4 linked regions of the Homo sapiens genome follow. Each later gene encodes a partner of the first gene's protein in a complex. Each region holds a gene or a part of one and is shown in the gene's direction. Other genes may lie near its edges. The genes, in order: RBBP7, EED, BPTF and CDK2AP2.

The links.
Region 2: RBBP7 (region 1) and EED share a complex: the UniProt entries of both Homo sapiens proteins name them as parts of the PRC2/EED-EZH2 complex.
Region 3: RBBP7 (region 1) and BPTF share a complex: the UniProt entries of both Homo sapiens proteins name them as parts of the BPFT-SMARCA1 complex.
Region 4: RBBP7 (region 1) and CDK2AP2 share a complex: the UniProt entries of both Homo sapiens proteins name them as parts of the nucleosome remodeling and deacetylase (NuRD) repressor complex.

What each region holds. Positions count from the first base shown.
Region 1 is NC_000023.11:16,860,335-16,867,363, reverse strand, and holds part of RBBP7 (histone-binding protein RBBP7), read left to right. Parts: intron 1-4,263; coding exon 4,264-4,409; intron 4,410-7,029. UniProt on the Homo sapiens protein: Core histone-binding subunit that may target chromatin remodeling factors, histone acetyltransferases and histone deacetylases to their histone substrates in a manner that is regulated by nucleosomal DNA.
Region 2 is NC_000011.10:86,261,726-86,268,754, forward strand, and holds part of EED (polycomb protein EED), read left to right. Parts: intron 1-2,446; coding exon 2,447-2,538; intron 2,539-4,357; coding exon 4,358-4,491; intron 4,492-6,730; coding exon 6,731-6,836; intron 6,837-7,029. UniProt on the Homo sapiens protein: Polycomb group (PcG) protein. Component of the PRC2/EED-EZH2 complex, which methylates 'Lys-9' and 'Lys-27' of histone H3, leading to transcriptional repression of the affected target gene.
Region 3 is NC_000017.11:67,905,494-67,912,522, forward strand, and holds part of BPTF (nucleosome-remodeling factor subunit BPTF), read left to right. Parts: intron 1-4,088; coding exon 4,089-4,268; intron 4,269-5,383; coding exon 5,384-7,029. UniProt on the Homo sapiens protein: Regulatory subunit of the ATP-dependent NURF-1 and NURF-5 ISWI chromatin remodeling complexes, which form ordered nucleosome arrays on chromatin and facilitate access to DNA during DNA-templated processes such as DNA replication, transcription, and repair.
Region 4 is NC_000011.10:67,505,988-67,512,274, reverse strand, and holds CDK2AP2 (cyclin-dependent kinase 2-associated protein 2), read left to right. Parts: upstream 1-4,112; 5' UTR 4,113-4,192; coding exon 4,193-4,274; exon of another isoform or gene 4,275-4,585; coding exon 4,586-4,683; intron 4,684-4,777; coding exon 4,778-4,910; intron 4,911-5,262; coding exon 5,263-5,330; 3' UTR 5,331-5,778; downstream 5,779-6,287. UniProt on the Homo sapiens protein: Acts as a component of the histone deacetylase NuRD complex which participates in the remodeling of chromatin.

The sequences.
Region 1 (7,029 bases):
ACCTTTTGGGGGATCTTTTTGACCCACTGTAACATAATAGAAAACAGCAGGGGCTTTAAACTTAGAGACCTGGGTTAAAATCATGCCCCTACTTCTTAGCTTCATGAACTGGGGCCGTGTTGTCTGGGCTGTAAATGGAGATGTTGGTCATACTGACTACCTACATTTGAGGGAATGAAATAAGATCATGCATGTTAAAGTGCCTGGTGCAGCATAAGTACACGGTAAGTGGTGACTGATGCTGATTCTCCCACCCCTTCCTGTTCAGAAATAATTTGTCAGGATTGAAATAGCTCTGTTTCTTCATTTGGATTTCAATGAAAGCTACTTGCTGAAGTTTTTTTTAAAAAAATGTTACCTATAATATGTAATACTTAGGAATGTAACAAAATGCTTTAATTAAATTATTTAATGTGTATCATGGTGTTCTTTGTATACAAAGCTGTTGTGGGATTGGGTTGTGGGATGTGCAGTGGCTTAGAGAATGTAAGAAAATGCCAAGCAGCCTGCATTCTTGGATGTTGAGGATTGTTGTGTGGTGCTTTGCAGGGTTCAGTTTGGGGTATAAAGGGACTGTGTTTTATCACCATACAGAACAGTAAAAATGTTGACTATTCTCAATGCCTGACTCTGAGGAACAAGATCCTACTCCACCTCATAGGCCTTTCTTCTGCTGACTTACAACATGCTTCATAACGATTACTTGGACTTTCTTAGCTATTGTCCTTCAATTGAGTTAGGTAATTGTCCAAATAATTGATTTGGCTGGCTGGCTTGCTTTCTTGCTTTCTTGCTTTCTTTCTTTCTTTTTTTTTTTTTTTTTTTTTTTTTTTTTTTTTTGAGACAGTCTCGCTCTGTCTCCCAGGCTGGAGTGCAGTGGCACCATCTTGGCTCACTGCAGCCTCCACCTCCCGGGTTCAAGCGATTCTCCTGCCTCAGCCTCCTGAGTAGCTGGGATTACAGGTTTGTGCCACCACACCCAGCTAATTGTTGTATTTTTGGTAAAGACAGGGTTTCACTATGTTGGTCAGGCTGGTCTCAAACTCCTGACCTCGTGATCCGCCCGCCTCGGCCTCCCAGAGTGCTGGGATTACAGGTGTTGATTTGGCTTTTAAAAGGTTTTATTTAAGTATCTCTAAGAAATTTGTTTTAATTAGATAGTTATTTCATATCTCTTGTTGAATAATGTCTTAAATATATTGAGACTAACTTATTGTCTACCTAAAAAGCTTTGTAATTTTTCAAATTCAGGAAGTATAAAAGGACATAGAGTGAAGAATAAGTCCCCTTTCCACATCCCTTACTGTCCTACTTCCTTTCCCCAGTCATTGTTTTCAATTTCCTAACCCATCCTTGCCAGCGTGTAGAAGTGCATACCTGTATCTTCATTTTTTATGGTAGCAAGTTCTTCACTTGAGTTTGTCAGTAAGAGTATGTATTGGAGATTTTCCTGTCAGCATGCTTGGATATGCTTGTTCTTTTCAAGAGTGCCATAGAATTTTGTTTATGGATACACTGTGTAATGTATGATACCAGTTCCTTGCTGATGGATACTTAGTTATTTTCAGTCTTTTTCCTTCTATAAACAATACTGCTGAGAATAATCTTGCAATAGGCCAGATTTATGTGATGCTTGGCTAAATTTCCTAGTGGTAGTTACTGGGGTCAAAGGATTCTGCACTGAAAATGAATAGGCTTTCTTAACCATTAGTCCTTCTGCAGCCTTTAGGTACATCCAGTATTGGAGGAAAATAGTGTCATATTGATTAGTTTAGGAAAACAGGCTGTGTTTTAATGATGGAGGTGAAGGGATTTCTAGTAAAAAGAAAAGTCCTCATATGATGATCAAGTTGGGGAAAACTGGAATAATTAAATTTGAGTCCAGAGGGATTTTTAAGCTCCTCCAGTCCGTCTTGGGACAGTGTTCCTTAGAAAGGGCCTGTGATAAACTGACCTACCTGTTATTTTTTACTTGTTGGTCTTAGTTTTCCTGCTCAACTCCACAAAAAACAAGTGACTTTTTTCCTTTGATGACAGTACCAGCATTGCTCTGTGGTGCCTTCTTTCTCTCAAGCATTATTATTTCTCTTTTTAAATATTTATTTAAATTTTTGTTTTTTGTTTTTGTGTTTTTTGTTTTTTGTGGAGATGGGATTTTGCCACGTTGCCCAGGCTGGTCTCGAAGTCCTGGGTTCAAGCAATCCGCTTGCCTTGGCTTCCCAAAGTGCTGGGATTAGAGGCGTGAGCCACCACATCCGGCCAAATATTTATTCTTTTTTTTTTTTTTTTTTTTTTTTTTTGAGACAGGGTCTTGCTATGTTGCCCAGGCTGGACATGAACTCCTAGGCTCAAGCAGTCTTCCGTAGTAGCCCTAGTAGCTGGTACTACGGGTGCACAGCACTGCACCTGGCTTACCCTTTCATTTTAAGCCACTATTCCCTGTAAAGGTTTGATTTTTATCCAAGTCCTCATAAAGTATGTTGCTTAGAGCCTAATTTTAATGGTTTTACTGGTTAAAAATAAGTGGGCAAGCCAGATATGGTGGCACACATCTGTAGTCCCAGCTGCTGAAGAGGTTGATGTAGGAGGATCAACTTGAGTCCAGGAGTTGGAGGCCAGCCTGGGCAACATAGTGAGACCTTGTCTCTTAAAAAAAGAAAAGGTCGGGGGTGGGGGGCACATGTGCTCATGTGCATTGCCCCCTACATACATATAAAGACCACCTAAGATGGAATTAATTAATTTTTTGATAGCCACATCATATTCTTGGCCCACTGTGCATGTATCAACCAAGACCCATGTTTTCTTTCTTTTTCTTTTTTTTTTTTTTTTTTTTTGGAGACGGAGTTTCACTCGTTGCCCAGGCTGGAGTGCAATGGTGTGATCTTGAGATCTTGACTCACCACAACCTCCACCTCCCAGGTTCAAGTGATTCTCCTGCCTCCGCCTCCTGAGTAGCTGGGATTACAGGCATGCGCCACCATGCCCGGCTAATTTTGTATTTTTAATAGAGATGGGGTTTCTCCACGTTGGCTAGGCTGGTCTCGAACTCCTGACCTCAGGTGATCCGCCTGCCTTGGCCTCCTAAAGTGCTGGGATTACAGGCGTGAGCCACGGCGCCCATTTGTCTTTTTTTCAAACACGTTGCTATTGCTTAGTCACGGCTGCCTTACTCTGTTTTGGGGGGAGTGTGTCTGTGTGTGTGTGTGTCTCTTCTCCATGTGCACACACTTTTTTACCGTAAGCCAAATTTTGGTAAAATTGCATCTTGTATTTTCTTATTACTAAATTACTTGCCTAGAAGTAATCTTCAATCTTTTTAGAAAAAAAAAAAAAATTGAATCCTTTGTGCAGCTGAAATTTAGAAACAGATAAATGGCCTAACTTGTCTTGTGTTAGGGCCTAGACCCCTACTTCTCAGTCCTCTTCATTGAAGTGGGACCATGGAGCACAGTTGAAAATTGTATTCTAGATAATACAAATGGGAAAGCCTTTTTAATAGATACTGATGCAAAAATCACTGCTCGGACCAAGGTGCCAAGAGGTTTGGGCAAGTTCTTCAGCCTCAAGGTGTTTCCACAGAACAAGGTAACAAAGATACCTCGGTAAAATTGAGAATGTTCGTTTCATAAACTTAGGTATCATAAACGTCAGTGAGTTTCACATCATGCCATTTGCACTTATAGCCTATTTTATTCAGTGAAGAAACTGAGGCCCCAGGGAGGTTGTGTTTTAAGCAACTGCATTTTAGTTTGATCCAGGATTTAAGCTAAGTTTTTTTGATTCAACACTTTCTGTCCATACTACCTTGTAGAATTTCTTATTGGGAAATAAGAAACATCTAGTGTATAAGATATTTTTAGGTGGGAAGAAGATTTCTTTAGGTGGGAAGTTGTGATTTATGAGTGTGGGGATTGTTGGTGGATTCCTGTGTAGATGTTTGTCTGTGTTTACTGAGTTGGGCCTACCTTCCCCGGAGTGCTGCTCTATAAAAGGTAGTGTTCACGCTGATAATTGAGGCACAGGAGGATGGCTCTTTGGGAAAGAAGCAAGCCCTCTGCATGTTGTAGCTAGAATATTTTCTTATATTTGCATATGTGGGGATTGTAAAGTTGGTAACCAGAGGGGGAGAAGATACACAGTTGATGCTAAGTATATATTTGCTAAAGAAATATGAATGTATTTTGAGGGAACTAGACTGAATTTGTTAGCAATTGGAGATTTCTTGTAGGATTAGTGTGACTTATTTTCTTTCTTAAACAGACCTGAAGGAAAAGATTATGCCCTTCATTGGCTAGTGCTGGGGACTCATACGTCTGATGAGCAGAATCATCTGGTGGTTGCTCGAGTACATATTCCCAATGATGATGCACAGTTTGATGCTTCCCATTGTGACAGTGACAAGGGTGGTAGGTATATCATATATTCCAATATTGGTGTCAAAGGGAAAATGTCTCTTTCAAAGCATATGCTATTAAAACTATACTATTAGCTTTTGGCCCAGTAATTTAACTTCTAGGACTTTATTCTACAGAACTTCCCACCCACATGTGCACAAGGATTTTAGTCGTAATTGCAGAATTGAAAAATTAGGATCAACCTTGTAACCCAGATGTTGGTTCATAGAAAGTTGGTTAAGCACATGGTATGTTTGAAATACTACTCAGCAATTAATAAGAAAGGCCAGGTGCCATGGCTCACGCCTATAATCCCAGCACTTTGGGAGGCCAAGGTGGGAGGATTGCTTGAACTCAGGAGTTCAAGCCCAGTCTGAAAAACACAGACCTCATTTCTACCAAAAATTTAAAAAAAAAATTTTTTTTTTTAATGAGAAAAATCTGTAGGCACTGGTATAGGAAGGTATCCAAGATAAATTAAGTGACTAACTGCTATGTGTAATTACAGTATTCCACTTTGGTAAAAGTAATATGTGTTGGTGTGTGCAATGGGTATTTTTTGTTTGAGGAGAGAGGCAGTAGTGGTAGGGTTAATTCAGGAATCTGTTGGCTGCTTTTTTCTTTTTTTAATTTGTCAAACATATACTCTCCTGTTTTGGTATTCCCATGACCACCCCAAGTTTGGTGATTTTGCTAGGACTCCCAAGAGCAAATTATACTTGTGGCTAAAGTTTGTTACAGTAAAGAACACAAAAGCAGCAGGAAAAAGATGTACATCGGCAAGTTCAGGGAGGTCTGGCACAAGTCTTGTCCAAGGCCACACAGGATGTGTCTTCCGGCAGCAAACTGCAGGGACATGTGTGAAATATCTCTGCTCAGGGAAGCCTGTTTGGGTCTTGGGGTCTGAGGCTTTCTTGGGGGACTAGTTGCATAGGCACATCCTGCTGACAACCAGCCACAGCAACTGTAACTTGAGGACCCCAGTAATACAAACTGAGGACCCAGTAATAAAAGAAGGTACGTGTCATCAATCTTGATATCTGCAGAGTAACCCTGACAAACTGGTACAACGCGGTCCATTGCTCCAGGTGCACACCACAAAATCATCAGTTCATCAGTGACAGAAAGAACATTCTGAGGTGCATGTTCCCAGGAGTTAGCCAAGGGTCAGTAATAGGGTCCCAGTGTTCCTCAGAGACTCCAGGGCTAAGCACCCAGACTGCTGTATTAACTCTTTCTTCACAGTCCCAAATGGCTTAACGCTATTAGCACTTTCTAATATGTGCCTTAGGGTTTTTTTCTTATTGAAAATAAAATACTGGCCAGGTGCAGTGGCTATACCCATAGTCCCAACACTTCGGGAGGCCAAGGCAGGAGGAACGCTTGAGCCTGGGAGTTTAAGACCACTCAGGGCACACAGTGAGACATTGTCTCTATCAAAAAATAAAATTAAAAATCAGCCATGTGTGGTGGCGCATGCCTGTAGTCCTAGCTACTTGGGAGGCTGAGGATCGCTTGAGCCCAGGAGTTCGAAGCTGTAGTGAACTAGGATCACACCACTGCACTCCACCCTGAGCAACAGAGCAAGATCCTGTCTCAAAAATACTACATTCTCTAGTGTAGTGAAACTGCTAGGTTGTATGGTGTATTCATTGTCAACTTCATAGAAAACTATTTTCCAAAGTGATTTACCCAGTTTACTACTCCCACAATTTACTGTTCATTCCCCGACAACTGTATGCATTATTTCTTTAAATATTGGGGTTTTTTTGTGTTTTGTTTTTGTTTGTTATGAGGCAGGGTCTCGCTCAGTCGCCCAGGCTGGAGTGCAGTGGTGCAATCTCGGCTCACTGCAACCTCCACCTCCTGGGTTCAAGTGATTCTCGTACCTCAGCCTCAAGAGTAGCTGGGATTACAGGCGTCCACCACCATGCCCGGCTAATTTTTGTATTTTTAGTAGAGACTGGGTTTTGTCATGTTGGCCAGGCAGGTCTCGAACTCCTGGCCTCAAGTGATTCGCCTGCCTAAACTTCCCAAAGTGCTGGAATTACAGGCATGAGCCACCACTCCCGGCCTGAATATATTGTAATCAGAAATTTTTAAATGGCTTTTAGCCCTGAAGTATGTATTTACCGGGCTTGCAGTTTAACAGTCTCTGCATAATGATGTTAATATATTATTAAAGTTACACATCCAGTGTATTCTAACAAGTAGCTGAAATAATTCAGTTAATACCTTTGTTAATATTCAGTATATATATTTTTTTTTTCTTTTTTTTTTTCTTTTTTTTTTCGAGACGAAGTTTCGCTCTGTCACCCAGGCTGGAGTGCAGTGGTGTGACCTCAGCTCACTGCAACCTCTGCCTCCTGGGTTCAAGCGATTTCCCGAGTAGCTGGGACTACAGGCGCCCGCCACCACACCTAGCTGATTTTTTGTATTTTTAGTAGAGACGGGGTTTCACCTTGTTAGCCAGGATGGTCTTGCTTTCCTGACCTCATGATCCGCACGCCTTGGCCTCCCAAAGTGCCGGGATTACAGGCATGAGCCACCACGCCCGGCCAATATTGAGTTACATTTTTTAATGGATATTATCATTAAGACAGTGACTTTTCAAAATTTTAAGTTTGAGAAA
Region 2 (7,029 bases), on another chromosome or scaffold:
GCTGCTTGTACCTTCAGAAGCTATGGCCTGAGCCATACTTGAGCCCCTTCAAGCTATGGGGTGACCAAAGAGCACTGCCTTGGAATAGGGGGAGCAAAGTGCTGAAGTGGCCCTGGACAGTGAATGTAGAGGTCCCATGGGTGCTACTCTGGAAACCTTGCCCTCAAGGTCTTAGCTATGTCTTGAAGATCTCTGAAATGCCTTTGTGGTCATTATCCCATTGTCTTGGTGAATAGAACCTGCCTTCTCTTCCCTATTAATCTCCTTAGCAATTAGTCACTTAGCTACATCCTTAATATTCTCTCTCAAACATGCTTTTTTATTTTATATATTTTTTGAAGAGACAAGGACTTGCTATGTTGCCCAGGCTGGTCTTGAACTTCTGGGCTCAAATGATCCTTCCACCTCAGCCTTCGAAAGTGTTGGGATTACAGGTGTGAGCCACCACACCCAGCCTGCTTTTTTTTTCTTTACATGGCCAGGCTGAGAGTTTATAAATGTTTCTGTTTTGCTTTCCTTTTTAATTACAAATTTCACCTTTAGATCATTTCTCATTTTATGATAAGCAGCCAGAAGAAGCCATGCATCACTGTGAATGCTTTGATGCTCAGATATTTCTTCTGCCAGGTATTGGATTCATTGCTCTTAACTTCTGCCTTCCACAAAGTCCTAGGGCATGGACACAGTCCTGCTAAGTTCTTCACAACTGTATTGCAAGGATGGCTTTTATTTATTTATTTAATTTATTTTTTTGAGGCAAGGTCTCATTCTTGTCACCCAGGCTGGAGTGCAGTGGCACAACCTCTGCTCCCTCACACCCTCTCCTTCCCTTTTGCTGTGAGACGATTCAGCATGAAGGCCCTCACCGGATGCCGGCACCATGCCAGTGATCCTTCCACTTCAGCCTCCCGAGTAGCTGGGACTACAGGCACATGCCACCACACCCCGCTAGTTTTTGTATTTTTTGTAGAGATGGAGTTTCACCATGTTGCCCAGGCTAGTCTCGAATTCCTGAGCTCAAGTGTCCACCCACCTCAGCCTCCCATGCTGCTGGAATTACAGGCATGAGCTACCACACCTGGCCTGGCTTTTTTTTTTTTTCTTTTAAAGACAGGGTTGGTCTCTGTCACCCAGGCAGTGCAGTGGCATGATCATAGCTCACTGCAGCCCAAAACTCCTAGGCTCAATTGATCCTCTTGCCTCAGTCCCCTAAGTAGCTAGAACTGCAGGTACACGCCACCACACCTGGCTAATTTATTTTCTGTAGGGATTGGGTCTCACTATGTTACCCCGGCTGGTCTTGAATTCCTGGCCTCAAGTGATCCTCCTGCCTCAATCTCAAAGTGCTGGGATTACAGGCATGAACCATCACACCCTGCCAACAGGGATAGCTCTTACTCCATTTTCCAATAACTTCTCATTTCTGTCTGAGACCTCACTGAATGAGACCAACCTCATTCTGTCTGAGACCAACATTGTTCTACCAACATTCTGATCACAACCACTTAAGTAATCCTTAAGAAGATAAAGGCTCTGCCTGAAGCTCTTGTCTTCTTTTCAGCCCTCACTGGAATTACCCTCAATGCTCCACTCACACCAATATAGGCTTTTTCTAGCCTGCTCCTCCAGATTCTTCCAGCCTCTCCTCGTTACCCAGTTCCAAAGTCATTTCCACATTTTCAGGTATTTATAGCAATAGTCCCGTTTCTGAGTACCAACATTCTGTCTGAGTCCATTTTGTGCTGCTATAACACAATACCACAGACTAGGTGACTGACTGATGGATTAATTAATTTCTTTTCTATTGCTCAGGCTTCACTAATTTTTAAATTTTTTGTTGAGACAGGGTCTTGCTATATTGCTAGGGCTAGTCTCAAACTCCTGGGCTTAAGCAGTCCTCCCATCTTGGCCTTCTGAAGTGCTGGGGTTACAAGCATGAGCCACCGTACCTGACTGGGTGATTTATAATGAACAAAAATTTATTTGGCTCCTGTTTCTGGAGACTGGGAAGTCCAAGAACATGGTGCCGGCATCTGGTGAGAGCCTTCATGCTGAATCGTCTCAGCAAAAGGGCAGGAGAGGGTGTGAGGGAGCAAGAGATTGAATTTATAGCCTCAGGCCCTTTTATAATCAGTATTAATCCATTTGTGAGGATGGAGCCCCCATGACCTAAATACCTCCCATTAGGCCCCAGCTCACACCACTATTGCATTGGGGATTGAGTTTCTAGCACATGCTTTTGGGGGGGCCTATTCAAACTATAGCACTTACCTAGCTAATTCTACATCTGATGTAAACATTTTAAGTTGCTATGTAATATGGATTCCATTTTTAGGCTTTACTGTGCATAACTTACATCTAGACTTTAGTAGTTTTTCTTTCACAAGATGTTGAAAGTTCACAGTAAATAAAAAACATTCGCCTAATTTTTGTATGTTTATACTAGATCATGCTTTACGATTATGGAATATCCAGACGGACACTCTGGTGGCAATATTTGGAGGCGTAGAAGGGCACAGAGATGAAGTTCTAAGTGCTGTAAGTTGGAAACTGCAGGGCAATGACTTTCAGGTTTACATAGCTGTGAACAGTCTCCATGGAACTGTTTCCTTATAAGAAAGTGTGTTTCATGTAGCCTGTCAGGCAGACATTCACTTACATTTGACATAGAAGATTTTAATCTCCAGATGAAGGAATAAAACAAGTAAAGACTATATTTATTTATTTATTTTTTAAATTACTTGCACTGTATACCAATCCCTGGAGTCTTATGAGAGCAGTATGATCTTGCTCCTTTCCTTTTAATCTAAAATCACTAAGTTAATGTTTGTTTTGCCATTTCGCAGTTATTAAAGAAAAAAATTAAACTATGTAGCCATTAAAGTGCTTTTCCATCTTTTGTTTGAAGTTGAAACATAACGTTTTTTGCTATTTGGAAGTGTTTTATTGTGCTCACACTGTTTTAGGTAACTTATTTCTAGCCATTCTCTTTGGGTGGCGTGGTATAATACAAGACCAGTTTAAAGATAAATACCACCTTTATATTGATGTATTGTAATCCATTGGTCCATTATACAAGTGTTTTTAGTTAGGTTTCAGATTTTAACATTATTTTTGCTTATGTTCCATATTTAGCTCATTTGATTCCTGTAGTAATTTCACATCTCTTAGGTTGTTTTCCATTAAACTATGTAAAGGGGCACCATATTTTACAGCATGTAACATTTTAGTTGAAGGTACTAAAATATTCCTATGTTGAAGTTTGGATTCCTTTGTGAGAATCATACCTTCCTTCGAATACCTTGTCAACTTGGATTTCCTAAAAGTTGCAGTAGCATTCTACGTCTGGCTTTATGTGTGTAAAAGCCAAGTGAACTGTTCTTTATTAATAACTCCAAATTAGTGGTATTGTCTCGAAGGATGTCTTGTTGCTGTTGACAGTGAGGTAATTAGAAGTACCACAACTGTGAATTCAATAAACATCAAGCCTAAAGTTCTTAGGCTCTTATAAAATGGTGCTCATAATTAATGCAAAGGCTGGATTAACATATAGTATCTAGGTTAGTAAGGAAAATATACTCCTTCAATAGAACTCTCTACTGTTATTTCTTAGAATGAGAGCAGGAGACAGTATGTAGCTCTTCTGTGTAATACAGGAGTTCACTGGAGGTGGATAGGTGTGTGAGATTTTCATTACTCATTATGTGCCTTTTGCTAAATTAAATAGCATCTCTGGGCCTTAGTGTCTGCCTATGAAATGAGGTTGTTACAATAGATGATCTGTTACATGCCTGTTAAAAATTAGTAAACAGCAAATGAAAAAAGTTAAAATCTGTTTTTTATTAGACTTTTAAAAATTCACTTAAAAGTGAACTCTAAAACTAACTTCAAAATATTTTGACTTAGAATTATAAAGTAAGATGTCAGCTCTTTAAGGATTCATGTATTTTCACATGCACATGTCAGTTTCATTGGTTGGTTGAGGTTGGATAGGAAAAGTAATATCACTATTCAGCTCTTTGTGTCAGAATAATTATTTTAACTTAGTATTCAATTTACCTTCAAAATAAGCAAAATAAATATTTTAGTGTAATTGAATAGATAAAACTAAGTTTAAGTAATTTTTTCTTGGTTTATACATTGTAAATGCTCTTATATTCCGATGTTGACAAACTAATTAAAGCTGTAAATCTTGAAAGTAGTAAACTCTGATTTATGGCCTATTTAGATGAAACCCAAAATGTAGTTTGTATTGTGATTTGAAATACAGTTTTCACTATGTTGCACATTAGGCAAAAATTGGATAAATATAATTTGGAGCTGTAATTTATATAAAACTTTTTGGTTTTGCATACAGGATTATGATCTTTTGGGTGAAAAAATAATGTCCTGTGGTATGGATCATTCTCTTAAACTTTGGAGGATCAATTCAAAGAGAATGATGAATGCAATTAAGGAATCTTATGATTATAATCCAAATAAAACTAACAGGTAACAGTTGTGGTATTTGAAACAATTTGCTATGTTGTGCTATTGAATATAAGTTTTATTTTTTCCCAAAATTGCTATATAAGCCCCAACAATGAGTTTAGAAGACCTTCTTTTAACTTTAAGGGACAATTTACATACTGTAAAATTCACCCCTTTAAGAAGTCCTTTATTTGCAGTGTTTGTGGCTTAGTTTTCAAAATCCCCTTTAAATTGTGTTGTCATCTTAACTTAGTAGCACATTTTACTTATTTGTATTTTGGTATGCATATGCTTGGCCTTTTAAGTTATAAATGTAAAAGTTTTAAATCACTTAAGCTTATTATGGACTAGGGAGAGTAAAGGACACTTTAGAATAATGTTAACTTTTTTTAAATGATGCTAATTCTAATTCAAGATGGTAAACCACAGTTTTAAACAATGGAGTTCTTAGCTCTAATTCATGATAATGTTTTTCCCTAAATGATGCTCACTTGATTAAATGGAGAGAATTCAAATGCAGGAGCCTCACTTCATGGTACTATAGGTTGGGGAATTTTGCAGTTTTCTTAGTATATTTTTGAAATGTCTCAATTCTTAATGCAGTAACTGTCTTTAGAATCTTATCAGGCTGTCATTAACACTTTCACTATAAACGTTGTATGTCTGCATGTTAACTTTGTTGGCACTTTTGTTTTAGCAAAGAGCTAGAATTCATTTTCTGGTTATCAAGCCAGATTGTTAATAGATTATTAAATTTGTAAGCATCAGTAAATATTTCAATGCACTAACATTCATCAGACCTAAGTGTCCTCTAAGAATTATTAAAAGTTTTACCTTTCTCCTTTAAAACACCAGGAGCTAGTAGGACAATGTTAAATTTATATTTTTAGATTATTTTCTAGATATCTGGAATAAATACAAACTATATTTCAGAGTTTTCAAAAAATAACAGTTGTACTCGTTTTTTCTTTGAGAGAGGTTTGGCCATACAATTATAGTATGTATTTAGCTAAAAAGCAATTAATATAATTATAGCAGAGTTAAGAATTTATATCAGATCACGAATAACATTTTAATGTTTCAACAAAATATCCCAGAATTTGAATTGGAAGGATTGTTTTGAGTTGCTCCAATCCAAAGTGCTTTTTTACATATCTGAGGGAAAAGGTAAAGAGAGGACATATGAATTGCCTAAGACAACTAATTCATGGCATATTATACTTATACAGCTATTTCTGATTTAAAACTGAGTATATTAGGAATGTTAAGTGTACTGTTAAATAACTCCAGAATTAATAGCAGCTTGTTTTGTTTCTTCTCACAAATATCTCTAATGAAAACAGTGTTGCCATTTAGTTTCCTAAATACAGAAATTATTTGGAAAAGTCCTAGGAAATTTTATTTTGTTCTATTTGTTTTTTTGAGACGGAGTTTTGCTCTTGTTTCCCAGGCTGGAGTGCAGTGGTGCAATCTTGGCTCACTGCAACCTCTGCCTCGCAGGTTCAAGCGATTCTCCTGCCTCAGCCTCCCAAGTAGCTGGATTACAGGCGGCCGCCACCATGCCTGGCTAATTTTTTTTTTTTTTTTTTTTGTATTTTTAGTAGAGATGGGGTTTCACCATGTTGGCTAGGGTGGTCTCGAACTCCTGACCTCAGATGATCCACCTGCCTCGGCCTCCCAAAGTGCTGGGAGCCACCGCACCCACCCCCACTTAAGAAATTTTAAATTCCTGTAAGGCATCATTTTCAGAAATTATTGCTCAAGGCAGGACTGTAGATGTATCTTTAGCAGACTTTGGAATGATGTTTAGTTGTTCCTGGAAAGATGACTATCTTTTGAAATAGTGTAGATATATTGACTTTCATAGATTATTAATGCTTAATTTTAAGGACTGAGTAGGTAGCTTAGTATATTTTCAGTGAGAAACTGATCAGGCCTTTATTATTGGTTAGGGTACCCAGAATTGAGGTGATTAATTTTGGGTTATATATAGTAAAACGCAGGAAACTACAATGTTTATAAACAAAGTATCTATCATAGGACAAAGATAAAATTGGATAATAATGGAGAAAAATAAACAAAAGTGGAATGAGACTTTAGCTTTCAATAAATAGATAAGGTGGTTGGTTATGTAGGAACACAGAGGAATTAATAGTCTTACATTTTGTTTTTCCAAGTTTTATAAATCCAAAAATGAAAAAGAGTATGATTCTACTATAATTTTTTCTTTTAACTTTTTACATTTCCATTCTTCCTTCAGGCCATTTATTTCTCAGAAAATCCATTTTCCTGATTTTTCTACCAGAGACATACATAGGAATTATGTTGATTGTGTGCGATGGTTAGGCGATTTGATACTTTCTAAGGTATGGTAACTGCAGTTAAGCTGTACTTCCATCGTGTGTGTGTGTGTGTGTGTGTGTGTGTGTGTATGTGTGTGCGCATGTTGGAACTTGGCAGGGAGCACTTTATGTAGTTTATTAAATTGAATGGCAGCTGGGAAGTTGCCTTTTTTAAAGTCTCATATTTTGATATATTTAGAAACTTGTTTTAAGAATA
Region 3 (7,029 bases), on another chromosome or scaffold:
GCCAGGAGTTCAAGGCCAGCCTGGGCAACATAGCAAGACCCCATCTCTACAAAAACGTTTTAAAAATTAGCCAGGTGTAGTGCCACATGGCTGTGGTCCCAGCTACTTGGGGGTCTGAGGCAGGAGGATTGCTTGAGGCCAGGAGTTTGAGGCTGCAGTAAGCTATAATTGTGCTGTTGCACTCGAGCCTGGATGACAGAACCAGACTCAATCTCTTAAAAAAAAAAATCTTAATTCAGTACTAATTCACTGAGGAGTCATGTATCTAGTAACCTTAGCATTGTTGCAAGTAAGAGAAAACCAGAAAGAAAGTGATAGAGGCTTCCAAAACACTGTCACATAAATGAGGTTTTTCAGTGAGAACATTTGGACACAGGATGGGGAACATCACACACCGGGGCCTGTCGTGGGGTTGGGGGAGGTTGGGGGATAGCATTAGGAGATATACCTAATGTAAATGTAGAGTTAATGGGTGCAGCACACCAACATGGCACATGTATACATATGTCACAAACCTGCACGTTGTGCGCACGTACCCTAGAACTAAAGTATAATTTAAAAAAATAATGAGGTTTTTTTTGGGGGGAGGGGTTGTTTTTGTTTTTTTGAAATGGAGTCTTGCTCTGTCACCAGGCTGGAGTGCAGTGGCGTATCTGGCCTCACTGCAACCTCCGCCTCCTGGGTTCAAGCAGTTCTCCTGCCTCAGCCTCCCGAGTAGCTGGGACTAAAAGTGCACACCACCATGCCCAGCTAATTTTTGTATTTTTTATAGAGACAGGGTTTCACTATGTTGGCCAGGGTGGTCTCAATCTCTTGACTTTGTGATCTGCCCGCCTCGGCCTCCCAAAGTGCTGGGATTACAGGTGTGACCACTGCGCCTGGCCTATAAATAAGCTATTAATTGAGTTTTTACAACTGGCTAATGAGCTTTAGTATTTAGAATCACCGAACTCTATAGAGATGAACTGCTCTTTTAAAAGATCATGTGTTTTTAAACTCAAGTTCAATGAGCCGATTATTTCACGAGGGTGCCAGGTGACATAGTGAAGACCACATATGCACAGAGTGATAGAACGCTGGCAGGTCCCAAGCCCTTTTCTGTGATTCTTCTCTTACCTCACCACTATCCTGCTCTTGACAGGATTACGGTTTCTTTGCACTCTCTTCTCTTTCTTCAGCCAGACCTTTCTGGAAGAAATCATTCATTTAAATTAAAAATAGATATATTTTTTATATCTATTTTCTCACACCAGTATCTTGCTCGCGACAGAATTATGATTTCTTTGCACTCTCTTCCCTTCAGCCAGACCTTTCTGGAAGAAATCATTCATTTAAATAAAAAATGGATATACCTTGCTAGGTCCTTGGGATATTTAGGTTCAAGTGAAGAAGGTAAAGAATAGGAAAATGCCTTTAAGTCCAGGTGCCATGGCTCACACCTGTGATGGGATGCCAAGGCAGGGGAGGATCAGTTGAGCCCAGGAGTTCAAGAAACAGCCTGGGCAACATGGCAAATCCCCATCTCTACAAAAAATGCAAAAATTAGCCAGACATATTGGTACACACCTGTATTCCCAGTTACTCAGGAGGCTGATGAGGGAGGATCGTTTGAGCCCAGGAGTTCAAGGCTGCAGTGAGCTGAGATGAACCCACTGTGCTCCAGCCTGGGTGACAGAGCAAGACACTGTCTCCAAAAAAAAAAAAAAAACCTTTAAGTCCCAAGAATATTCATCTAGACAGTAGTTCTGTTTTGGGAGGCTTGATTTTTTTTTTTTTTTTGTAATTATTATGGGAAATTTAAAACTACACAAATACAAAGAGAATAATGAACTCATTCAGCTTCAACAATTATCAAAGTTTATCACTTTTTTTTTTTTTTTGAGATGGAGTTTTGCTCTGTCACCCAGGCTAGAGTGCAGTGGCATGGTCTCAGCTCACTGCAACCTCCACCTCCCGGGTTCAATCAATTCTCTTGCCTCAGCCTCCCAAATAGCTGGGATTACAAGTACCCGCCACCACGCCGAGCTAATTTTTGTATTTTTAATAGAGACGGGGTTTTGCCATGTTGGCCAGGCTGATCTCGAACTCCTGACTTCAAGTGATCTGCCTGCCTCGGCCTCCCAAAGTGCTGGGATTACAGGTGTGAGTCACTGCTCCCAGCCAAATTTTATCACTCTTTGTTTAGTTGTCACTGACCACTTTTTTTAATCCTGCAGTGTTTTAAAATAAATCCCAGAAATCATGTTTCACCAGAAGTTCAATATGTATCTCTACGTAGACATTTTTCCATAACCATCATGTCATTATCACACTCAACAAATTAACCGTAATTAACAAATTAATAATCTGATTCTCAGTCCATATTCCACTTGCCCTGGTTGTCTTAGAGATACCTTTTTACTGTAAGCAGTAAACAAGGCCACAGATTGCCTTTGATCCTTTTTTTCAGTCTTTTATTCTGTTATATAAACTTCAAGGAGTCCAAGAACCATTGAAATAGATTACAAAAGTTTATATACATACTTTTTTCCTTGGTAGAGGATCATAGCATTTATCCATTTCTAATAGGGTTCTGTGACACAAAGTATGTTAGAAACCACTGATATGGGCTTTCTGGAATGATCAAATAGATTGTGATAATCCTTCATACACGAGTTTTCTTTCATTTTATTTTTTTATGTGTGTGACAGAGTCTTGCTCTGTCAGCCAGGCTGGAGTGCAGTGGCACCATCTCAGCTCGCTGCAAACTCTGCCTCCCAGGTTGAAGCAATTCTCCTGCTTCAGTCTCCCAAGTAGCTGGGACTACAGGCTCGTACCACCATGACTGGCTAATTTTTGTATTTTTAGTAGAGATGGGGTTTCACCTTGTTGGGCTGGTGTTGAACTCCTGGCCTCAAGTGATCTGCCTGCCTCAGCCTCCCAAAGTGCTGGGATTACAGGCATGAGCCACCACACTCACCCAAATTTTATCACATTTGTTTCAGTTGTCACTGACCACTTTTTTTTTTTTTTTTTTTGAGATGGAGTCTCACTCTGTCACCCAGGCTGGAGTGCAGTGGTACGATCTCAGTTCACTGCAGCCTCCAACTCCCAGGTTCCAGCGATTCTCCTGCCTCAGCCTCCTGAGTAGGGATCACAGTTGCACGCCACCATGCCTGGCTAATTTTTGTATTTTTAATAGAGGCGGGGTTTCACCATGTTGGCTAGGCTGGTCTTGAACTCCTTGTCCTCAAGTGATCCGCCCACCTTGGCATCCCAAAGTGCTGGGATTACAGGCATAAGCCACTACACCCATCCAAATTTTATCACTCTTGTTTCAGTTGTCACTGACAATTTTTTTTTTTTTTTTTTTTTTTGTTGACACGGAGTCTCACTCTGTCGCCCAGGCTGGAGTGCAGTGGCGTGACCTCAGCTCACTGCGACCTCCGCCTCCTGGGTTCAAGCAATTCTCCTGCCTCAGCCTCCTGAGTAGCTGAGATCACAGGTGTGCACCACCACACCCAGATAATTTTTGTATTTTTAGTAGAGATCGGGTTTCACCATGTTAGCCAGGCTGGTCTCAAACTCCTGACCTCAGGTGATGCACCCACCTCGGCCCCTCAAAGTGCTGGGATTACAGGCATGAGCCACCGCACCAGCCTATAGTATTAATGTTTATCTTGTAGCTGACTATGTTACTGAATCACAGTTTTTTGTTTTTTTTTTAATTTTTGGACACAGAGCCTCACTCTGTCACCCAGGCTGGAGTGCAGTGGCATGAGCCACCGCACCAGGTCCCCCCCCCCCTTTTTTTTTTTATCCTGCAGTGTTTTAAAACAAATTTCCTAAATCATATTTCACCAAAAATGTTCACAAAGTTTTCTGAAATGTCTGAAGTTCAGGCATTCCTTCTGTGTTTTAGGTCAGCCAGGCATATAGGATTATATGGTACCTTATACTCAATAAGACCTTTGTCTTTTTTTTTTTTTTAAATGAAAAAATGAAACATAACTTGCTGGAAATTACTTGTTTATTTTCACTAAACTTGACATATTAAAGTGCTAATACTCTGGAAATAACGTAAATTATCGTTACATGGTTCTTTTTAGCCAAAAATAATATGGATGAAAATATGGATGAGTCAGATAAAAGAAAATGTTCACGAAGTCCAAAAAAAATAAAAATAGAGCCTGATTCTGAAAAAGATGAGGTAAAAGGTTCAGATGCTGCAAAAGGAGCAGACCAAAATGAAATGGATATCTCAAAGATTACTGAGAAGAAGGACCAAGGTAAGGAGAGTCAGCTGTGGAGGGCAGCCTGGGGGTGATAAGAATGCACTGGATCAGGGTCCCACCACAGGAAAGGTACTGCGTTGTGTTTTCTTGATAACAGCTTTATCAAAACATAATTGATATCCCATACAATTCACCCAATTAAAGTGTAAATTCAGTGGCTTTTAGTATATTCACAAAGTTCAACCATTATTACATCAATCTTAGAACATTTTCATAACCTTGAAAAGAAGCCTCATTCATACCCATTAGCAGTTACTTCCCAACCCCTCCCGAAAGTGCCACCAGCTTAGTGGTCTACTTTCTGTCTCTCTGGATTTGCCTATTTTGGACAGTCCATAGAAATGGAATCAGACAATATGTGGTCCTTTGTGGCTGGCTTCATCCACTTAGCATGGTTTTAAGGTTCATCCATGTTGTAGCATTTATCAGTACTTTCTTTTTGTTTCTGAATAATACTCTGTATGGATATGCCACATTTTGTTATCCATTCATCAGTTGATGGACATTGGGCTGTTTCCTCTTTTGGCTATACGAATAATGCTGCTATGAACATTCATGCAGAAGTTTTTTGTGGCCATGCGTTTTCACTTCTCTTGGCGATATACCTAGGAATGGAATTACTGGATCATATGGTAACTCTGTTTAACCTTTTGAGGAACTACATTGTCTTTTGTAACAAGTCATTTTTAAAAAAAAACTAGATAAGCTAGATAATGCATGTGGCTAGAGATACTTTAAAAAAATATTTTTGGCTGGGCGTGGTGGCTCATGCCTGTAATCTCAGCACTTTGGGAGGCTGAGGTGGGCGGATCACCTGAAGTCAGGAGTTCAAGACCAGCCTGGCCAACATTGCGAAACCCTGTCTCTACTGAAAATTCAAAAATAAGCCAGGCATGGTGGCACATGCCTATAATCCCAGCTACTTGGGAGGCTGAAGCATGAGAATTGCTTGAACCCAGGAGGCGGAGGTTGCAGTGAACTGAGATCATGCCACTGCACTCCAGCCTGGGCAACAGAGTGAGACTCCATCTCAAAAAAAAAAATATATATATATAAATTCCTCCTTTCAGAGTAAAAATTACATTTATATAAATGTCTTTGTTTCACAGATGTGAAGGAGCTCTTAGATTCTGACAGTGATAAACCCTGCAAGGAAGAACCAATGGAAGTAGACGATGACATGAAAACAGAGTCACATGTAAATTGTCAGGAGAGTTCTCAAGTAGATGTGGTCAATGTTAGTGAGGGTTTTCATCTAAGGACTAGTTACAAAAAGAAAACAAAATCATCCAAACTAGATGGACTTCTTGAAAGGAGAATTAAACAGTTTACACTGGAAGAAAAACAGCGACTCGAAAAAATCAAGTTGGAGGGTGGAATTAAGGGTATAGGAAAGACTTCTACAAATTCTTCAAAAAATCTCTCTGAATCACCAGTAATAACGAAAGCAAAAGAAGGGTGTCAGAGTGACTCGATGAGACAAGAACAGAGCCCAAATGCAAATAATGATCAACCTGAGGACTTGATTCAGGGATGTTCAGAAAGTGATTCCTCAGTTCTTAGAATGAGTGATCCTAGTCATACCACAAACAAACTTTATCCAAAAGATCGAGTGTTAGATGATGTCTCCATTCGGAGCCCAGAAACAAAATGTCCGAAACAAAATTCCATTGAAAATGACATAGAAGAAAAAGTCTCTGACCTTGCCAGTAGAGGCCAGGAACCCAGTAAGAGTAAAACAAAAGGAAATGATTTTTTCATCGATGACTCTAAACTAGCCAGTGCAGATGATATTGGTACTTTGATCTGTAAGAACAAAAAACCGCTCATACAGGAGGAAAGTGACACCATTGTTTCTTCTTCCAAGAGTGCTTTACATTCATCAGTGCCTAAAAGTACCAATGACAGAGATGCCACACCTCTGTCAAGAGCAATGGACTTTGAAGGAAAACTGGGATGTGACTCTGAATCTAATAGCACTTTGGAAAATAGTTCTGATACCGTGTCTATTCAGGATAGCAGTGAAGAAGATATGATTGTTCAGAATAGCAATGAAAGCATTTCTGAACAGTTCAGAACTCGAGAACAAGATGTTGAAGTCTTGGAGCCGTTAAAGTGTGAGTTGGTTTCTGGTGAGTCCACTGGAAACTGTGAGGACAGGCTGCCGGTCAAGGGGACTGAAGCAAATGGTAAAAAACCAAGTCAGCAGAAGAAATTAGAGGAGAGACCAGTTAATAAATGTAGTGATCAAATAAAGCTAAAAAATACCACTGACAAAAAGAATAATGAAAATCGAGAGTCTGAAAAGAAAGGACAGAGAACAAGTACATTTCAAATAAATGGAAAAGATAATAAACCCAAAATATATTTGAAAGGTGAATGCTTGAAAGAAATTTCTGAGAGTAGAGTAGTAAGTGGTAATGTTGAACCAAAGGTTAATAATATAAATAAAATAATCCCTGAGAATGATATTAAATCATTGACTGTTAAAGAATCTGCTATAAGGCCATTCATTAATGGTGATGTCATCATGGAAGATTTTAATGAAAGAAACAGCTCCGAAACAAAATCGCATTTGCTGAGTTCTTCAGATGCTGAAGGTAACTACCGAGATAGCCTTGAGACCCTGCCATCAACCAAAGAGTCTGACAGTACACAGACGACCACACCCTCAGCATCTTGTCCAGAAAGCAATTCAGTTAATCAGGTAGAAGATATGGAAATAGAAACCTCAGAAGTTAAGAAAGTTACTTCA
Region 4 (6,287 bases), on another chromosome or scaffold:
AACCTGCTGTAGGGCCAAGCCAGTGGCTCCTGCCTGTAATCCCAGCACTTTGGGAGGCTGAGGTAGGAGGATTGCTTGAGCCCAGGAGGTCAAGACTGCAGTGAGCCATGTTTGCACCACTGCGCTCAAGCCTGGGTGACAGGGTAAGACCCTGTCTCAAAAATAAATAAATAAATATAAATGAATGAATTCAAGGTTCAACCCCTCAGGCACCTCCCAAGCAAACCCCTTCCCCCAAACATGGGTGTTATGGACTAAATGTTTGTGTCTCTCCAAAATTCATATGCTGAAGCCTAACTCCCAGTGTGGCTGTGTTTGGAGATGGACCGCTAAGGAAGTAATTAAGGTTAAATGAGGCCATAAGGGTAGGGCTCTGATTTGATAGGACTAGTGTCCTTTTTTGTTTTTTTACTTTTTTATTTTTTTAAGACAGGGTCTTGCTCTGTTGCCCAGGCTGGAGTGCAGTTGCATGATCACGGCTCACTGCAGCCTCAACCTCCTGGGCTCAAGCAATCCTCCCACCTCAGCCTCCCAAGTAGCTGGGACTAAAGGCACATGCCACCATGCCAGGCTACTTTTTGTAGAGACAGGGTCTCACTATGTTGCCCAGGCTGGTCTTGAACTCCTGGGCTGAAGCAATACTCCCGCCTCAGCTTCCCAGTGTGCTGGGATTACAGGAGTGAGCCACCGAGCCTGGCCCTTCTTTTGTTTTTTAGATGTCGGGTCTCACTGTGTTGCCCAGGCTGGACTCAAACTTCTGGGCTCAATCAAGTCTTCCATGTGAGCTCCCAAGTAGCTGAGATTACAGCCTTGCACCTCCCTGCCCAGCTTCCAGGATTAACGTACTTATAAGAAGAGACACCAGAAAGCTTGTTCTTTCTCTCTGCACCAAGGAGCACATATGAAGACGTGGCCAGAAGGTGGCTATTTACAAGCCAGGAAGGGAGCCCTCACCAGAAACCAACCGTGCTAGCATCCTGATCTCAAACTTGCAGCCTCCAGAACCATGAGAAAATAAATTTTAGTTGTTTAAGCCACCCAGTCTATGGTATTTTATTTTGTTTGTGGAATTAGGCCAGTGGCTATTGCCTGTAATCCCAGCACTTTGAGAGGCTGAGGCAAGAGGATTGTTTGAGCCCAGGAGGTCAAGGCTGCAGTAACTAATAGAATGGGCAGTGGAGAAAGTAGGAAGGTCTAAGGTGTGGAAGTGTCAGAGGTGTTTGAACCAGAGCAACTCCATCTTGAATAGGAGCTGGGTAAAATGAGGCTGAGACCTACTGGGCTGCATTCCCAGATGGTTAAGGCATTCTAAGTCACAGGATGAGATCGAAGGTCAGCACAAGACACAGGTCATAAATACCGTGCTGATAAAACAGGTTACAGTAAAGAGGCCAGCTAAAACCCACCAAAACCAAGATGGTGATGAGAGTGACCTCTGGTCGTCCTCACTGCTACACTCCCATCTGTAAACTGATGCCATGGCAATGTCAGGCAGTTACCCTATATGGTCTAAAAAGGGGAGGCATGAATAATCCACCCCTTGATTAGCATATCATCAAGAAATAACCAGAAAAATGAGCAACCAGTAGCCCTTGGGGCTGCTCTGTCCGTAGCCATTCTTTTATTCCTTTACTTTCTTAATAAACTTGCTTTCACTTTACTCTGTGGACTCACCCTAAATTATTTCTTGTGCAAGATCCAAGAACCCTCTGGTGGGATATGGATCCAGACCCCTTTCCTGTAACAGAAGGAGTTGGGGCTTGGTGGTTTCCAAAGGAGGTATAACCCTCAGTGGCTCCTCTTCACCTACTATCCACAGTAGATTTCTCTGAAGCGCACCCTCAGTGCCACCAGTAGGAGCAGAAGACCTTGGGTGACCTGATCAACACCTTTTCTTTTTAACAGTAGTTGAGTCTGAATATGTATTAGAAAACTATAAATACTGAGCACATGATTAAATGGACATTATGCCTTTTCCTTTCTATTTAAGATTTTGTAAAAGTGAATTAATTACAAGGAAATGTTAAATAGATGGCAAAACTGATGGAGTTTTCCTAATGGCTGGAGTTAGGGAAGCACTGGACTCCGTGGTCAACTCAGCTTCCTTACATCCACGTCACCTAAGGTCCCCTTCCTGACCCTGTGGTTATTTCCACGGCTCCACCTCCACTTCCCAGTGAACTCTCCAGCAGAAAAAAAAAAGGAAAAAAAAAAAAGGCTGGTTCTCAAACACATGTTGTGCTCTCCCATTTCCCAAGATTTTGCACATGACAGTCCCTCTACCTGGAGTGTCCCCTCGGTCTCCGCTTCCACCCCCACCTACTCAAATGCCACCTAGTCTGTAGAGATTTCTGTGATGCCACCCGGCAGGCCCTTCCTCTAAGTTCCAATGCATCCTGTCCCGTTATCCCTTGTGGCCATTGACTTACTGCAATGTAAAGAAGACGTTGCTTCCCTGTCTCAGAGTATAAGGCCTCCTTGAGTACAGAGGCCATGGCCTGTTCATTTCTGTAACCTCAGCGTTCAGCACAAGGCATGGGACGGAGGAGGGAGTCAGAACATGGTTTTTGTGTGTTTTTTTTGGGGGGGGGGTTTGAGACCGAGTCTTGCCCTGTCGCTCAGGCTGGAGTGCAATGGCACGATCTCGGCTCACTGCAACCTCTGTTCAAACGATTCTCCTGCCTCAGCCTCCCAAGTAGCTGGGATTACAGGCGCCCGCCACCACACCGCTAATTTTTGTATTTTTAGTAGAGATGGGGGTTTCACCATGTTGGCCAGGCTAGTCTCGAACTCCTGACCTCGTGATCCGCCCGCCTCGGCCTCCCAAAGTGCTGGGATTACAGGCGTGAGCCACCGCGCTCAGCCAGAACATGCTTGTTGGATGAATGAATGAATGAATGAATGAATGACTGTCCTAGAGATGAAGATCTACAAAGCTGGGAGCATGAAGATACACAAGGCCAGAGAAGTTTGAGTTTGGAGAAGGAGCCTGGGAGAAAGGGTTAGGGAGTGGAGGAGGGTCTGAGGTCTAACTCTGTGGGGAGTGAGACTTGAGGGGAGGGGTCTGAGTGGTGGAGTGGAAAGGTATGGGGGCCCTGTGGGACAGGAAGGCGGAGAATGAAACAACAAGCACTTTATGACTATTCATTTAATCCACACAACCCAATGAGATCGTCATTTTCCCCATTTTACGGATGGGGAAACTGAGGCATACTGAGGTGAGAAACTTGCCTGGGGGAAATCGCTAGTGGGGGTGGTGCTGAGATTTGAACCCAGACGGTTGGCTCCAGTCGGTGCTCTTGACCAGTTTGGTCCGGGGCCCGGCACGCAAGTAATCCCGAAGGTTTGCCCTACGGCCATTGTCACTAACTTAGGCAGCAGCGCGGGGCCTTGGGGGTGCGGGTAAAGGGGTCTTTGAGGTCGCCCTTAGACCTGAGGACGAGCCAAGCCGCAGGAAGAACGGTACGTGGCGGCATCCATGAGGGGCCTGTTGCCATGGGAACAAACGCAGGCCTCGGGCGGGCGCATGCGCAGATCGGGGAGCGGGTGTTGAACCGGTGAAAGGTGACGTAAAAGCGCACGGGGTGGGGCGCAGGGCTCGGGACGTCAAAGCCCTGCGTCCTTCGGCCCCCAGAGCGGAGAAGCGCGCAAGGCACCGGTGGCAGCGGCGACGGCAGCTGCGACAGCAACCCCTGCTGGGCCGAAACTGGGCAGAGCGGAGCAGACGTCTGAAGCAGCGCGAGTGAGGCGCGAGGGTAGCGCCCGCGCCCGGGAAGACCCCTCGGCGCGAACCGGCAGCCCAGCCCCGGGTCCCGGTTCCCAAGGCCCCGCCTCTAGGGCCTGGGGACTAATCGGATTGAGAGCGCGCCGGCCCGGGCCGCGAACTCGCCAATTGCGGAGGGCGGTGGCCACCGCCCAATCCGGAGCAGACAGGTGCGAGGTCCGGAAGGCGGAGGCCAATCGGCGGCGGTTGCGACCTGCTGGGGCAGGTCTCGGCCAATAAGGAGGCTCGAGTGACATCTTCGCGCACCAATCGGGAGTGAGGGAGCATTCGTGCCCGCTCGCCCTTCCGGCCAGACCTCTATTTACCAGGGGCGTGCAGCCCGCTTGCCAATCAGAGCGCGGCTGAGCGGCCCCGCAGCCAACCCCCGAGGAGCGGCCGGCTGGCGTCCGCCGCGCCCAGGAGTTGGGGATGTCCTACAAACCCATCGCCCCTGCTCCCAGCAGCACCCCTGGCTCCAGCACCCCTGGGCCGGGCACCCCGGTCCCTACAGGTGAGGATCCAGCTCCACCCCTGCTCGCCTGCCGGGCGGTCGAGGTCTCGAAGAGAAGACGGCCTGAGTTCTGCAATACTGGGCCTGCCGCCTACCCTCGCTGAGCCTCAGTTTGCTGGCCTGTGAAGTGGGCGTGGTCACGTAAGGGCTTGTAGGTGGAGCGCAGTGGGAGGGATTTGTCCCTGAAGTTGATCAGCATGGAATGAAGCATCCTTTGGAGGGAATCGGGCGAACCCGGTCCTGGGCTTGGAAAAGCTGGGAGGCGGCGTCCCTGCCCCGCGCTGACCTCTTACTCGCGCCTGTTGCTGCAGGAAGCGTCCCGTCGCCGTCGGGCTCAGTGCCAGGAGCCGGCGCTCCTTTCAGACCGCTGTTTAACGACTTTGGACCGCCTTCCATGGGCTACGTGCAGGTGAGTGGGGCCAAAGCCTTGCTTATGGATGCGGACTGGAGTCCCCCTCCCCGCCAGGTGCCTGAGCTCACTGCCCTGTTCTCTTTTGACATAGGCGATGAAGCCACCCGGCGCCCAGGGCTCCCAGAGCACCTACACGGACCTGCTGTCAGTCATAGAGGAGATGGGCAAAGAGATCCGGCCTACCTATGCTGGCAGCAAGAGCGCCATGGAGCGCCTGAAGAGAGGTAAGTGAGGCCAGGCCGCCCTGCTCAGGAAACCGACACTGGACTATCCTTCATGAGGGAAGGAAGGACATCTGGAGGCCACCTGAGCCAAGCCTAGAGGATGTCCAGTATTACTACCAGAGAGGTGTTTTGAATCGAATTGAAATTGAGTCCATTTCCAGGGAAGAGCATGGGAATTTGTATTTCAACAGGGCAACCTTGAGGATTAACCAAACCTCTAATTTCATCTAGCCGTCATTAGATTTGAATTTCTTTTGCCGAAAGTGGAAAGGGAGTGGGGAGGCAGGGGTCCTCCTCTGGAGGGCAGTGGGTGGGGCTGTGGAGGGTTGCTGAGACCCCACCCCACCCCCAGGTATCATCCATGCCCGGGCCCTAGTCAGAGAGTGCCTGGCAGAGACAGAGCGGAACGCCCGCACGTAACAGGAAGCGCCTCGGCCTCAGCGTCTGGACCTATCCGGCCACTGCAGAGCACCCGCTTCTCCCTGGCCTTCATCCCGAGTTGCACTAACCATCCTGGGCTTCCTGTCCTGTGTCCCTTGGTGGGTCCCCTCCAGGAACCAAGGAGTGGCCCTCCAGGTGGCAGCACTAAGGACACCCCCCCACAACAAGAGTTAGCAGCGAGGTCCCCATGAGTCCCACCCATGACCTGCCGACAGTGTTGCCCACCGGAACTTTTGTGGCCCCTACCGCTCAGCCCTTCCCAGCACTTCTCCCACTTTGTCCCGAGCCTCCTTCTCCCCCAGCAGGGGCACAGGCCTGGCACCTCCCTGCCTTGTGTCCTGAGCCATAGTGACTCTTTTATCTGTGTGTCTTTTGCTAAATATGCCCTTTTTATATTAATAAAAGATGATTTGGAGTTGTGCTCTCAGCTCTGAGCCTTTCTGGGTCTGGTTCTTCAGCTAAGCCTGGGTGGGCCAGGCAGAGACAGGGGAAGAGGAGACTATGGATGGGGAGGGTGTGATTAAATGAGGTTTGACTTGCCTCTGTAGGCCATCAGCCTTTGGTGGGACCTGGGCCCTCTCCGCCCCAGCCGTGGCGCTGAGAGCCCTGGGCCTTCCTGTGGTGCCACCAGGGGGCAGCACAGGGCCTGGCTGCTTCCACAGCCCTTGGCGCTGTGGGCAGCCTGGGCCTGGAGGGCGCTTCCTCTGGATTGGCGGTGATGCCTGGCAGCATGGAAATGCCAGTTCACGTAAGCCACTCCCTCACACGCCCTAATGCCCTGACAACACCCCAGCCTCTGAATCAGCCCTGAAGGTCTCTGACTTCTCAGAGAGAAAGGGCACTGCTGCTTCCAGCACTTGGCCTCAGTGTCAAGGGGAGGGGCTGGCGGGGTGCTGCCGTCACTGCCCCAGCACCTTGTAGCAGGCTGGGTGGGAT